4 linked regions of the Homo sapiens genome follow. The protein of the gene in region 1 purifies or fractionates together with the protein of each later gene. This does not show direct contact. Each region holds a gene or a part of one and is shown in the gene's direction. Other genes may lie near its edges.

Region 1 (3,505 bases):
TCCTAGCACTTTGGGAGGCCGAGGCGGGCGGATCACGAGGTCGGGAGATCGAGACCATCCTGGCTAACACGGTGAAACTCCATCTATACTAAAAATACAAAAAAAATTAGCTGGGCGTGGTGGCGGGCGCCTGTAGTCCCAGCTACTCGGGAGGCTGAGGCAGGAGAATAGCGTGAACCCGGGAGGCAGAACTTGCAGTGAGCCGATTTTGCGCCACTGCACTCCAGCCTGGGTGACAGAGTGAGACTCCATCTCAAGAAAAAAAAAAAAAAAAGGAAAGTTAATCAGTAACTGCACATTTTAAGGGGATTATCTATTTTCTATTTCTACTCCTTACTCAGTAGAGTGCTGCATTCAGTTTAAGTGTATACACTCACTCAGTGCAATCAAGTCTTGTTTTACAAATATTAATACAAAAGCTGCAGAGCATTTTAGTCTTGACCTTTATTGGAAGCCTCCAAAGGTTATATTTCGACCCAGCCAAAATATAACCTATTTATATTATAGGTTTTATATATATATGATATATAAATATATTATATTATATATATATATTATATTTTATATATAAATATATATTATATTTTATATATATATTATATTTTATATATAAATATATATTATAGTTTATATAATATATAAATATATATTATAGTTTATATAATATATAAAATATATTATAGTTTATATAATATATAAAATATATTATAGTTTATATAATATATACATATATATTATAGTTTATATAATATATACATATATATTATAGTTTATATAATATATACATATATATTATAGTTTATATAATATATAAACATATATTATAGTTTATATAATATATAAACATATATTATAGTTTATATAATATATACATATATATTATAGTTTATATAATATATACATATATATTATAGTTTATATAATATATAAACATATATTATAGTTTATATAATATATAAACATATATTATAGTTTATATAATATATAAACATATATTATAGTTTATATAATATATAAACATATATTATAGTTTATATAATATATAAACATATATTATAGTTTATATAATATATAAACATATATTATAGTTTATATAATATATAAACATATATTATAGTTTATATAATATATAAACATATATTATAGTTTATATAATATATAAACATATATTATAGTTTATATAATATATAAACATATATTATAGTTTATATAATATATAAACTTATAGTTTATATAATATATAAACTTATAGTTTATATAATATATAAACATATAGTTTATATAATATATAAACATATATTATATTATAGTTTATATAATATATAAATATATATTATATTATAGTTTATATATATATGAGATATATAAATATATAATACATTGTCAGTCATCCTGTTTTATTTAAAAGATCAAGTTCTGGAAAAGAAATGAAGAATTTTTTTTCAGTGTCTGTCAAAGGGGACATGAAGAAAATTGTTAGTGGAGGTTAATCCATATCTATATAATTTAGCTGTAATTTCTACGTCAAAGTTAACCTTCAGTCACTAATTTGGATCCTTTTGTGCTTACATAGTCACCTTTAGGCTAACTATAACAAGATTCTAGGAGTTCCTGATGCTTTTTTTTTTTTTTTAACTCTTCGGTTCCAATACCTAAAGTTATACACATGTGTTACACAGCTTGTCTGGTTAAATTAAGTGGGTATGGAATGTTAAAAATAATGGTAGGGAATAAATGAATTACTTAAGACTTGTTTATTCCATGCATAGATTAGTGAGAACAATTCAGAAGGCATACTTTGTAGCCCCTCCAGAGCAGAAACTTCTTTATTTGACGACTAGAATAGAAATATCTTTCTAACAGGTCTTAAGGATTAAAGTTGATTTTTATGGCTTTTAAAATGTTTGGAAAATGCTAACCATTTAACTTTGTATAACAGTAGTATTTTCTATGTGTCTTAAGTAGAGTGTGCAGTATTTGTATAGTCAAAGATAAGTTCTGTGACAGTAGAAAGATGAACAAGTCTCATTAAAGAAGGAATAGATTAGAAAGCATAAAAATGTTGCAGTTTTTCTACTGTGCCTTGTTTTTATATTGACCATCTGAAAATTAAATTATAGTTTTACTTTAATTGTCCACTTAAAACTTTGTAGCTTTGCAGTACTGCTGTTTCTTTTCTGGAATGCTGTTCTCCCTTGTCCTTCCCTAGGTACTTTGTTTTTAGATGTTAAGTTTTTATGATTATGATTATTATTATTTTTTTTTTGGAGACAGGGTCTCACTTTGTCATCCAGGCTGGAGTGCAGTGGCACGAACACAGCTCACGGCAGTCTCGACTTCCCTGGCTCAGGTGATCCTTCCACCTCAGTCTCCCAAGTAGCTGGGACTACAGGTGTGCACCACCATGCCCAGCTACTTTTTGTATTTTTTGTAGAGATGGGGTTTCACCATGTGTCCTGAACTGAGGTGATCCTTCCTCCTCAGCCCCGCAAAGTATTGGGATTACAGGTTTGAGACACTACGCCTGGCCACATATTAGGTCTTAATGCGTCTAAGCATCACTTCCCCGGGAAAGCCTTTCCTGATGTCCCCGCCCCTGTTTCAGGGTCACATTACACACCCCGACTGCCATTTTATATTTGTTTCTATAACTGATGGCTGGCTCCTTTGAATGCTGTCAGCCTCAAGAAGCTGAGACTGTTTGTGATCACTTTTGTATCTTCAATGACAAGTTTAAAAGAGCAAAAATATATTCTAGTGAGATAAGTGACTCGATTATTGAAGTAGAAAACTATTAATCCCCAGCTGTAAGCTTTTGTTCTTTTAATCATGTGTTTTAGTGTATTTGTTAAAAGTGTATACAGGTACAACACAAAATTTACATCTGCAGCTTAGGTATTGGCAATTATATTTTTTAAAACATAATCAATTTTACTAATGATTACATGAGAAATTGCCTGATGTTTTAAGGTAGTTGGAACAAGCTTCATATTTCTGAGACTTTAAAGAGTTGTCTTTAACCTACAAGTTGTCAGAATTGTCTTTAATTTCCAAATGTATTGGGTTTTTCTCTTTCTTGTTGGTGATTTCTAACTTGATTGCATTGTGATCAGGGAGCCTAATTAAAATCAATACTGTACCTGGAAATTTGTTGAGGCTAACTTTATTCCCAGCATACAGTCAGCTTTTATGTTTCACCTGTGCACAAAAAGAGTATACATATTATTGATGTGTGTGTCTATTCTGTATGCTCTATGTCCACTAGACTTACTGTGCTGTTTATATGTATATCCTTACTAATTGTGTTCCTCTATTTGATCTGTTGTATCTAACTGATCCTCTGTCTACTTGATGGTGATGCTAAAATGGTGAATTTAAAAATTTTCTCTACATTTACAATTAGTATTATTTTCTAGGTGAATTGAAGTTTTTATCATTATGAAGTGAACCTCTTTACCTCTGGTAATGCATTTTTTCTTAAAGACTATATTTCTAATGTTAATGT
Region 2 (3,505 bases), on another chromosome or scaffold:
AATCACGGAGGGTGAGTGGCTGGAGGTCATAGAGGAGGGAGATGCTGACGAATGGGTCAAGGTGGGTATGGGACCCCGGGCTCTGACCTTGGGTTGGGGGCAGTAGGAGGGACTTCTCTGTGGCCTCCATAGACCCTTCTAGGCAAAGCTAGAAGCCTGAGTAGAAGAGAGCCAGGGTCATGGACTGCTGAGGTAAGTCTAATATCTGTTCACATTGCTGGGTGAGCAGGCTCGGAACCAGCACGGCGAGGTAGGCTTTGTCCCTGAGCGATATCTCAACTTCCCGGACCTCTCCCTCCCAGAGAGCAGCCAAGACAGTGACAATCCCTGCGGGGCAGAGCCCACAGGTAAGAAAGGGAAATTTTGGGTTAGAGGACCCTGGGTATGGAGAAAAATTGTTAGGGGTTGTAGCCCTGGGGTGTCATGGTCCTGGGGCACTGCTACCCACCTCCCTCTCACCGTCTCTCCTGGGCCTCTGTAGCATTCCTGGCACAGGCCCTGTACAGCTACACCGGACAGAGTGCAGAGGAGCTGAGCTTCCCTGAGGGGGCACTCATCCGTCTGCTGCCCCGGGCCCAAGATGGAGTAGATGACGGCTTCTGGAGGGGAGAATTTGGGGGCCGTGTTGGGGTCTTCCCCTCCCTGCTGGTGGAAGAGCTGCTTGGCCCCCCAGGGCCACCTGAACTCTCTGACCCTGAACAGGTGAGGCTTACCTTCTCCCTGAACTCCCCAGGCACCTCTGGGTTGACCCTCCCACCCCAATAAAGCCTCATATTCATCTTAATGCCTCCTCTGCTCCCCAGTTTTACCTCCTACAGTGGCCTGGGCCTCCCATCTCCTATGGGGGGGCAGGGAAAAGGGAAACCAAGGCAGCCTTCATAGGAGTTTGGGGGGTCCTACTTTAGTGCTGGATAGATCTGAGTTCAAATTTCTATTGTATGACTTGGGCAATGATTTAACCTCTCTGAGCTTGTTTCTTCACATGTAAAATGGGGATAATACCTACTTTAGCAGGCTCACTGTCATAATTAGAGATAATCGAGGTAAAGCCTTCTTCTTTTTTTTTTTTTTGAGACAGAGTTTCGCTCTTGTTGCCCAGGCTGGAGTGCAATGGTGCGATCTCAGCTCACCGCAACCTCTGCCTCCCGGGTTCAAACGATTCTCCTGTATCAGCCCCTCGAGTAGCTGGGATTACAGGCACGTGCTGCCACGCCCGGCTAATTTTCTATTTTTAGTAGATACAGGGTTTCTCCATTTGGTCAGGCTGGTCTCAAACTCCTGACCTCAGGTGATCCACCTGCCTTGGCCTCCCAATGTGCTGGGATTATAGGCATGAGCCACTGCGCCCCGCCGAGGCAAAGCCTTTAGTGCAGTGGAATGCAGAAGGTGTTTCAATATAAGATATCTGTTGTTATAATGTATATACATACAGCAGAAAGAGAATAGGAGTGGGCATCAGGAGAACTGGGTTCTAGCCAGCACTCTGCCAATAACTGGCTTCGTGATTTTGGACAGCTGGCTTAACCTGGGTCTCACTTCTAACATAGGAGTCATATTATTAAAAATGCCTACCTCATGGGGTAGTGGTGAGGATTGAATGAATTGGTACACGTGAAGTGCTAGCAGAACACTTGAGACATAGTAAACATAAGCGTTCAATACATATTGGCTGTTGAAATATTTGTCAGCTACACCCCCCCACCGAATGCAAGCATTTGGCCACTTCCTGTATTGAGAAGTGATGAGGAAGGAACTGGAGATGGGATGAGAGGAAAAGCTGGTAAAACCTCCCCACATGCCAGGAATAACTCTGTGCCCACCCCACCTCCAGATGCTGCCGTCCCCTTCTCCTCCCAGCTTCTCCCCACCTGCACCTACCTCTGTGTTGGATGGGCCCCCTGCACCTGTCCTGCCTGGGGGTGAGTGGAAGGAACTGGGAGCCTTGGGAGGCTAACAGACAGGAAGAAGGAGGAAGCTTGGACTCCCAGGTCACGCTCTGGTCCTCTCCGTGCCTTCAGGCATCTTGCTTGGTGGAGAGCACTTGCCTGGGCTCTGGAGCCAGGCTGACTGGTTCAGGTCCCGCTCTGTCATCTCCAAGTGTGTGGTGGGATTCTGAACCTGTCTTGGCCTCAGTTTATGTTCTTTATGAGGTAAGGAAAAGGTACTAGCTTATTGAATTCTTATGAGAGTTAAAAAAGATGCCTGTGGACTACACAGCATTGTGCCTGGCACACAGTAAGTATGCAGTCACTGTTATTATTTTAAAAATTAGCTAACTTCTCTCACGGTGTCCTCCCAATATGCACCTTTTGCTCCTAGTGTCCAGATACCTAGCTTTGTATCATTATTTTTTCTGATGCCCACTTTTTTTCTTTTTTAAATGTCTATAGCAGTTTTATTTTATTATTTATTTTAGATTCAGGAGGTACATGTGCTTGTTTGTCATATGGATATATTGCATACTGGTGGAGATTGGGCTTCTAGTGTACCTGTAACTCAAATAGTGAACATTGTACCTGATAGGTAATTTTTCAACCCTCGCCCCTGCCTCTACTCCTACCTTTGCCCCCTTTGGAGTCCTGGGAGTCTGTTATTTCCATCTCTATGTCCATGTGTACCCGTTGTTTAGCTCCCACTTATAAGTGAGAACATGCAATATTTGGTTTTCTGTTTCTGAGTTAGTTCACTTAGGATAATGGCATCCAACTCCATTCATGTTGCTGCAGAGGACATGATTTCATTCTTTTTTATGGCTGTGGAATGCCTGCCTTTTCTAAAACTTTCTGGTACTTCCACCTTGTCCACAAGGAGTCTCCCTCCCTGGAGTTACCACCATCTCCACCACCCCAAGTTCACTTTGCATGACTTAGCACTTAGTCATTTATTGTGTTTGTTGAGGTTTCATTATTGGTTTCTTGACAGCCATTGGGGGTGGGAGCACTATGCATCCTATCTCCCTTAGTTTTGTACCTTGAGCAGAGCTGATTATACAGCAGTTGCCCAATAAATGTTGAGGACAGTGGATAGAGTGATGGATTTTATGGTCTAGGATGGTGACCATTAATTTAACAAATATTTATAGAATGCCACTGTCCTAAGTGCTGGAGATACAGCATTGAACAAAACAAAGTCTGAAGACTGACTTGTGGTTCTTATTTCCAGACAAAGCCCTGGACTTCCCTGGGTTCCTGGACATGATGGCACCTCGACTCAGGCCGGTAAGGGCCCTTGCCTTGGAGGAGATTGTATGTAGAGGGGTTATTCCAACCAGTCCTGTTTTGTCTGCAGGGCTGAGGGAATAGACAGGGATACCCTTAAGGGAGAACTCTGGAGCACTAACTGTGTGTTCCCTACAGATGCGTCCACCACCTCCCCCGCCGGCTAAAGCCCCGGATCCTGGCCACCCAGATCCCCTCACCTGAAGGCCAGGGAAGCCTTGACCCCCAGTGATGCTGCTGTCCCTATCTTCAAGCTGTCAGACCACACCATCAATGATCCAGAGCAA
Region 3 (3,505 bases), on another chromosome or scaffold:
TATTTTCGCAGAGGCGTGGTCTCACTTTGTTGCCCAGGCTATTCTTTAACTCCTGGGCTTAAGAGATCCTCCCACCTCAGCCTCCCAAAATGCTGGGATTATAGGGGTGAGCTACTGGGCCTGGCTGGTTTTAGTATCGTATTAGGTATTACATAGTGCTTCAGACTTACAAGGACCAACAGTTTCAAAGAACACATTTACTAAAGATGATTTTTAGCACAGCTCGCACTTAAGGTTGTAATTCACTATATTCTATATATGTCTACTATTATATCAAAGCTGTATATTTTTCCCTATGAATATTTTTAAATGAACATTATATTAACTTAAGCAACAGCAAAAATAAAATCCTATTTTTTTTCTATTGGATCTACAGCTAAAAAAGATGGCCTTCAATAAACCAGAGAAAGTACATTCTTATTTGGGGGATCTGCTCTCTGCCTAAAGCAAAGAGGAAGTTAAAGGGCCTGGCCAGCTCACAGATTAATATATGTTCTCGAACTTACTTTGAAGTCTTTATGCATATATTTGATCAGCATTGGGTAGGTCATGCTTTGGAGTATTCATTTAATGAAACATTGTGGGGTACTAAACTGATTAAAAATAGAGGCAGGGGTTGGTCCCTCCTGCCCCTTAAAAATGAGAAAACATACTTTCAGTTTTCATGTACTGTACATTAACTCATTTTCTTCCTCATGCTAATTCTATAGTCTGCAGTACAGGAAAACTCCTATCAATCATGCTGTTAGCTACTTAGTAAATTTCCACCATTGAATTGTCAGTGGCCCTTAGATGCCTTTCTTGAAAATATCTGTTTTTCTGAATTAATGTTAAGGAAATATCTATTTTTCTGAATTAATGTTAAGGTGATAATGCCCTATATGGGTAGCTTAAAAGCAGGGTATTTGATTTGTTGGTTTAATCATACACATTTAAGAGCCTCTTACAGCATGCTAACTACTGAGTTAGGCTTTGGGAAGAGACAGATGAGTAAGACATACTACTTATCCTCAAAGAGCTCAATATGGTAGAAGAGAGTGAGATGTATATATATACATACACATATATATACACACACATATATACATATATATACACATACATATATATACATACATACATTATATATATATATATATATATACACACACACACATACACATACATATATACATGATTGCAAATTAGAGTGATGGAAATCACTTACTGCTGGAGGACTGTGGTTAGTAATAATAATAGCTATCTTTTTTATTGCTTAATATTGCCTTGGCATTATCCTAACCATTTAATACATGTTATCCTTTCTCATTTTCTTTGTTATCCTCGTTAAAGTTCATAGCTCATTATTTAAATAATACTCTAACTTATATTCTTATCTTTGCCCTTCTTCAAATGAAATGAAATTGTAACTCTGATGAGCCCCCATAACTGGATAATCTGTATCTAAGCAGCCAAGTACTGCTGAAGAAAAGTTTCGACGGAGCAGATTCATGATCATAAATTAATAGAGAAACCAGTGCAGCAGTTTCAACACTGCTTAGATGGCCTACTGTCTTTTCCCTAGTTAACTTTTCCTACTATTTTTAACAGTTATTTCAACTTTTCCCCCCTCTTCAAACCTCAAACTTACCCCTTCTCTTTTATGCTTAGCAAGTGGGTTTTCTTCCTAATTTACAGAGACGATAGAAACCGTTGGAAGACAGCTTCAATATTGTCCACTTCATCTGTGTTGAAGACTCTTCCAGAGTCTCAGTAGCAGTTGTTCCTGTCTAAAGGTGATCTTTTCACCTCAGCTTTGGATTATATCTCATCCCCTCCTGCCTTCTTAGGGAACAAAACAATTATTTTATGTTCTTTTCGTATTTCCTGGACATTCTGTTCTTACATTAGCAGTTATCTTGGTGATAACAACCCTCATTATGACTGTCTTTTGAGTTACATTCTTCTAATCTGGACTAGTTGCCCTCTGTGTCAGATGCAAGTATTTATCCTGAGATCTTCCTATATGTCTTTGTTGTGTTAGATCTCCAGTTTTCTTTATGATATGTCTTATTTTTTTCTTGATTTATACTGTCCTTTGGTAGAGCACATCCTCCAGTACCTTCTTGCGAAAGTGGGCATGGGAAGTAAGTTTTTTGAGATACTATGTTTATGAAAATGGCATATTATTTGCTTGTACTTGGATATAGAATTAAAGGTTGAAAACTCTTTCATTGAAACATTGGAGTCCATACCTCATTGTTTTCTTCTTTACTGTGTAAGTATTGAGAATCCAAAGCCATCCTAGTTCTTGATTATTTGTATCTGATCTAATTGTTTGTTTTTTCTTTTTTTAGAAGTTTATGGAATATTCTCAGTGTACCCTTTGATTTCTTGGATTAATTCTTCCCTTTTGTTTTCTCTTTCTGGAACTTCCCATTATTAAGATATGATATCTCCTAGCTTGCTTCTTTAAATTTCATTTCTTTCTTATTTTCCATCTTTGTCATTATGTTGTACTTTTTGGGAGACTTCTTCAACTTTACAGTTTCTTTTATTGGACTTTTAATTTTTTCATAGTAGTTTTAATGTATGAGAGTTCTGTTTTCTCCACATCCTTACCAGCATTTTTTATTGCCTGTTGTATTAGTTCGTTTTCACACTGCTTTAAAGAACTACCTGTGGCCGGGCATGGTGACTTACACCCATAATCCCAGCACCTTGGGAGGCCGAGGTGGGCAGATCACCTGAGGTCAGGAGTTTGAGACCAGCCTGCCAACATGGTGAAAATCCATCTCTACTAAAAATACAAAAAATTAGCTGTGTGTGGAGGCATGCACTTGTAGTCCCAGCTACTCAGGGAGGCTGAGGCACGAGAATCGCTTGAACCTGAGAGGTGGAGGTTGCAGTGAGCTGAGATCGCACCACTGCACTCCAGCCTGGGTGACAGAGTGAGACTTCATCTCAAAAAAAAAAAAAAAAAAAAGAAAGAGCTACCTGAGACTGGGTAATTTATGAAGAAGAAAGGGTTAATTGACTCAGTTCCGCATGGCTGGGGAGGCCTCAGGAAACTTACAATCATGGTAGAAGGCAAAGGAGAATCAAGTACCTTCTTGACATGGGGGTAGGAGAGAGGAAGCGAAGGGGGAAGTGCCACTTTTAAACCATCAGATATCGTGAGAACTCAGTCACAATCATGAGAACAGCATCAGGGAAATCGCTCCTATAATCCAGTCACCTCCCACAGGGACCCTCCCCCGATATATGGGGATTACAATTTGAGATGATGAGATTTGAGTGGGGACACAGAGCCAAACATATCACCTGTCTTTTGGATAAAAGTCATTTGACCTGGGATGACATGCTATCTAATTATAGTTTTGATTTATGTTTCTCTGATGGTCAATGATATTGAGCACCTTTTTATATGCCTGCTTGCCATTTATATGACTTTTTTTGAGAAATGTCTATTCAGATTTTTTGCTCATTTTTATTTTTTATTTTTATGTATTTATTTATTTTTCTT
Region 4 (3,505 bases), on another chromosome or scaffold:
TGGGTCCTGGCTTCACGCCTGGGGACAGGCTCCCCCAGTGTGGTTGGGTAGAGTCAGCAGGGCCTCTGTGGGGTCCCAGGGACATATCTGGGAGGGGCTGGCACAGGCGCCCAGCCTGTGCACGTCTCCACCTCCCCTGCCAGCAGCCTGAGCCCTGACCTGAGATCCCACACAGCACCGTGGCACATCCACTGTCCACCCCGGGGCTTTGGCAAAGTCTGTTCTGTTGCTAAGAAGTAGAAAACGGGGAGATGGGGCCTCAAAGGGTCAGTGAGTGACCAGGGCAGATGTGACAGAGTCCTGGTCCACTACTCTTCAGCCACCTTGGCACAAGCTGCGCCCTGCCCTGACTGATGTGAGTTCCCACTGAATGTAGAAAGGTGTGACACTTGTCCCTACCCCTAGGGAATCCCAATCCCAGGACCCAACCTCCCCCCACCGTGGTTGTAATTTATCAGCAATCACCTCCAGTGGCCTGAGCAGGCAGAGCCTCTTGGTGGCTAAGGGGTGCTGTCATGGGAAACGGAGGTTTTCATGGTGAAGACATGCTCTTCCCACTGGGGCAGGCGGCCTGCAGAGGCAGGTGGTCTTGGTTCCAGGGGGCTGGCAGGAGCCCATGCAGCCAGGTGGCCACCTGGAGACACCACCACGCCATCCCCCGAGGAGCTCTGTAACCCGGCCTCCCTCACCCCCGCTCGGCACTCCGCTGTAGTCAGCGCTCCTGGTGGCTCTGACTCTGGCACAGGAAATAATAAGCCCCAGCCGACAGCTGTGGGAAGGGGGCTATGAGAGTGCCTCAGGGGATGTTGGGGGGTCAGGCTGCTGGAGCAACGAGCATAGGGCTCCTCCCATCCTGCACCGTGGAAGCCACCTTGCGCACACACGGCTTCACGCTGTGATGCCCTCCTTCCTGAGGATGTGAGCTCAGGGTGGTGGGATTGGGGCCAGGGCCAGAGAGCTCTCCACCTGCTGCCTCCTGCCTGCCTCATCCTTGCCCTGTCCCAGCGCCTGCACCTACCCGGCAGCTCCCAGGCACCCACAAGGCCCAGGCACTGGGACCATCCAAGCAGCAGGTGGCTTCTAACACAAGGATCAGGGCGAGGACCAGGGTAGCTGCCGGTGGTCCCTTGGCCATTTGGGGCTGAGGGAGAGGTGGCCTGGTAGCCTCTCAGGCCCAGCTGCACCTGCTGCCTGAACACGTGCCTCTCAGCTGCCCAGGAAGGGGGCAGGGCTCCCCAGCAGCTGCAGCTCCACCACGCAGCCGCCCTGGGCAAAGCATCAAGTCTAGCTCCTCCCAGCAGTCTCACCCCAGCCCACGCCATGGGCGACTATGCATCCTGGTGGTGTCTGCTTCCCACCCTCAGTTCCGTAGTGCTGAGGGGCCCGCGTTCTCTGTGCACAGTCCTGGGAGGCCCATGGCTTCTGCCCGGCAAGTCGGTCAGATGCTGGTTTGATTACTATGTCTAAGGGCACGGGTGAGCATTCAGGGTGCTTTGGTGGCTTCACCCACTTAGCACCTTGTTAAGACAGGGAGCCCCTTATGGACACTGTTGAGGTAGAGGATTCCTGTCTTGGGGATAAGCCCTTTGTTTCATCAAAATCTACTCCCTGGGTCTGACTTAGTTTGGGGGCATTTAATGCTTTGGTAAAGTTAATATCCTCTTACTCCCTGGCAAAACTGTTCATTACTCTTACCTCAAATGTACACTTGATTTGCTGAGGCTTTTTAAAAACAGGCCGGCCACGGTGGCTTACGCCTGTAATCCCAGCACTTTGGGAGGCTGAGGCGGGTGGATTACTCAAGGTCAGGAGTTCAAGACCAGCCTGGCCAACATGGTGAAACCCCGTCTCCACTAAAAATACGAAAATTAGCTGGGCGTAGTGGCACACGTCTGTAATCCTAGCTCTTCGGGAGGCTGAGGCATGAGAATTGCTGGAACCCAGGAGGTGGAGGCTGCAGTGAGCAGAGATCATACCACTGTACTCCAGCCTGGGTGAGAGAGCAAGACTCTGTCTCAAAACCAAATTCCTGGTCATGTCCTTTGAGAGGCACATCTGGGAGTCCTGCTCTGTGTGGTAGCTGAGCTCCTGGAACCTGACAGTGAGTCTGCCAGCATCCTCTCAACTCTGAGTGCCTATGATCCCAGTCTCAGTAACTGCTTCCTGCCCTCGTCTTTCCTCCTCTCTGGGTTCCTCATAAAAATGTCCAGGAGGAACCAACTCTTCTGGTCCTGGGTCACCTCCGAATGGCCACAGAGTCATGAGCTCCCTGGGCTGCGCAGCCTGATCCTGGACACTGCAGGGCTCTGGCTTGCCTGGTAGACGCCCCCTGCCATTGCACCGAGGGCCAGCCCTCCAGCAGCAGCAGCGAGAGCCTCAGGAGAGCACTGCTCCTGGTCACTAGAGGACACATGATCCACAAAGACGAGGCCGGTGTGGACCTGCAGCGTTGCATCGTCCACTGCTGCTCTCTCTGAGGGCCACTCCTCTGAGTCTCCCACGCGGTCCCTTCTAGTCACAGTGGAGGTCCTCAGGGCATTTTCCTGAAGCAGCTGGTTGGAACTTTGGCGGTTCCAATGGCAGAGCCAGAGGATTTCTGCTGCTTTCATGTTGCCAAGGAGCCCTTGAAGGAGAAGGTGCCCTGGGGCAGGGGTGAGTTTAGATTTCAGTTCTGCCACCTGCCAGTGGCACTGTGAGGGCTGGAAAGGGTGCCAGACAGAGAATGTGGACACCTGTGTTCTCTTCTAGACCTTCTCTGCCTCATCGTGACTTTGGATGAGTCATAGGTCATCTCTCTCTGTCCTCAGTTTCCCTCCTTTTTAAAAGTGAGGTGTTGGCCAGATGACTTCAAGGCACCTTCCCCACCATCCCCTAGTCCGTTGTGTGATAAAGCTCACAGGAGGTGGGGGTCAGGGCACCCTTCATTCCTGGGCCACCCTGTGCCACCCAGCTCCCTGGACCTGGCCCACAACCCCACCTCCTCTCATCTGCCCTCACCCCATGACATTGTCCACGTTCGCACAAGCTCCAGGGGACAGGGCCTCATCTGTCTTGTTCACAGTGAACTCCCCAAGACCTAGAGCAGGGTCTGGCGCTTGGTAGGTGCTCAGGGCACATTTTTGGACAAGTGAGTGCTGGCCAGGACGCCCCTCCAAGAGCGGACCCATCTCCAGCCAGGCCACCCCTCCAAGAGCAGACCCATCTCCAGCCAGGCCACCCCTTCAAGAACGGGCCCATCTCCAGCCAGCTTGTCCCACAGGTTCGGCAGTGTCTTCCCGAGCCTCAACATGGCTGTGAAGAGGCGGGAACAGGCCTTGCAGGACTACAGGAGGCTGCAGGCCAAGGTGGAGAAGTATGAGGAAAAGGAGAAGACGGGGCCAGTGCTGGCCAAGCTCCACCAGGTACCAGGGGAGACAGGTGGGCAGGGGCTAGACAGGTGGGCCATCGTGGTCACCTGTGGTAAGTCCCTCCCCTCACCTGGGGGCACCAAGACACCAGACGTCCC

Evidence for each region. Proteins that work in one complex are often made in the same cells at the same time.
Region 2: the proteins of SNX9 (region 1) and FCHSD1 purify together in Homo sapiens (co-immunoprecipitation; 3 studies listed by BioGRID and IntAct, with this or other methods). This does not show direct contact.
Region 3: the proteins of SNX9 (region 1) and FCHSD2 purify together in Homo sapiens (co-immunoprecipitation; one large-scale study listed by IntAct). This does not show direct contact.
Region 4: the proteins of SNX9 (region 1) and BIN3 purify together in Homo sapiens (co-immunoprecipitation; one large-scale study listed by IntAct). This does not show direct contact.

Annotation. Positions count from the first base shown.
Region 1 is NC_000006.12:157,826,245-157,829,749, forward strand, and holds part of SNX9 (sorting nexin-9), read left to right. Parts: intron 1-3,505. UniProt on the Homo sapiens protein: Involved in endocytosis and intracellular vesicle trafficking, both during interphase and at the end of mitosis. Required for efficient progress through mitosis and cytokinesis. Required for normal formation of the cleavage furrow at the end of mitosis.
Region 2 is NC_000005.10:141,641,415-141,644,919, reverse strand, and holds part of FCHSD1 (F-BAR and double SH3 domains protein 1), read left to right. Parts: coding exon 1-61; intron 62-229; coding exon 230-347; intron 348-481; coding exon 482-702; intron 703-1,831; coding exon 1,832-1,919; intron 1,920-3,162; coding exon 3,163-3,218; intron 3,219-3,356; coding exon 3,357-3,422; 3' UTR 3,423-3,505.
Region 3 is NC_000011.10:72,978,315-72,981,819, reverse strand, and holds part of FCHSD2 (F-BAR and double SH3 domains protein 2), read left to right. Parts: intron 1-3,505. UniProt on the Homo sapiens protein: Adapter protein that plays a role in endocytosis via clathrin-coated pits. Contributes to the internalization of cell surface receptors, such as integrin ITGB1 and transferrin receptor.
Region 4 is NC_000008.11:22,624,118-22,627,622, reverse strand, and holds part of BIN3 (bridging integrator 3), read left to right. Parts: intron 1-2,210; coding exon of another isoform or gene 2,211-2,322; exon of another isoform or gene 2,323-3,253; intron 3,254-3,259; coding exon 3,260-3,401; intron 3,402-3,505. UniProt on the Homo sapiens protein: Involved in cytokinesis and septation where it has a role in the localization of F-actin.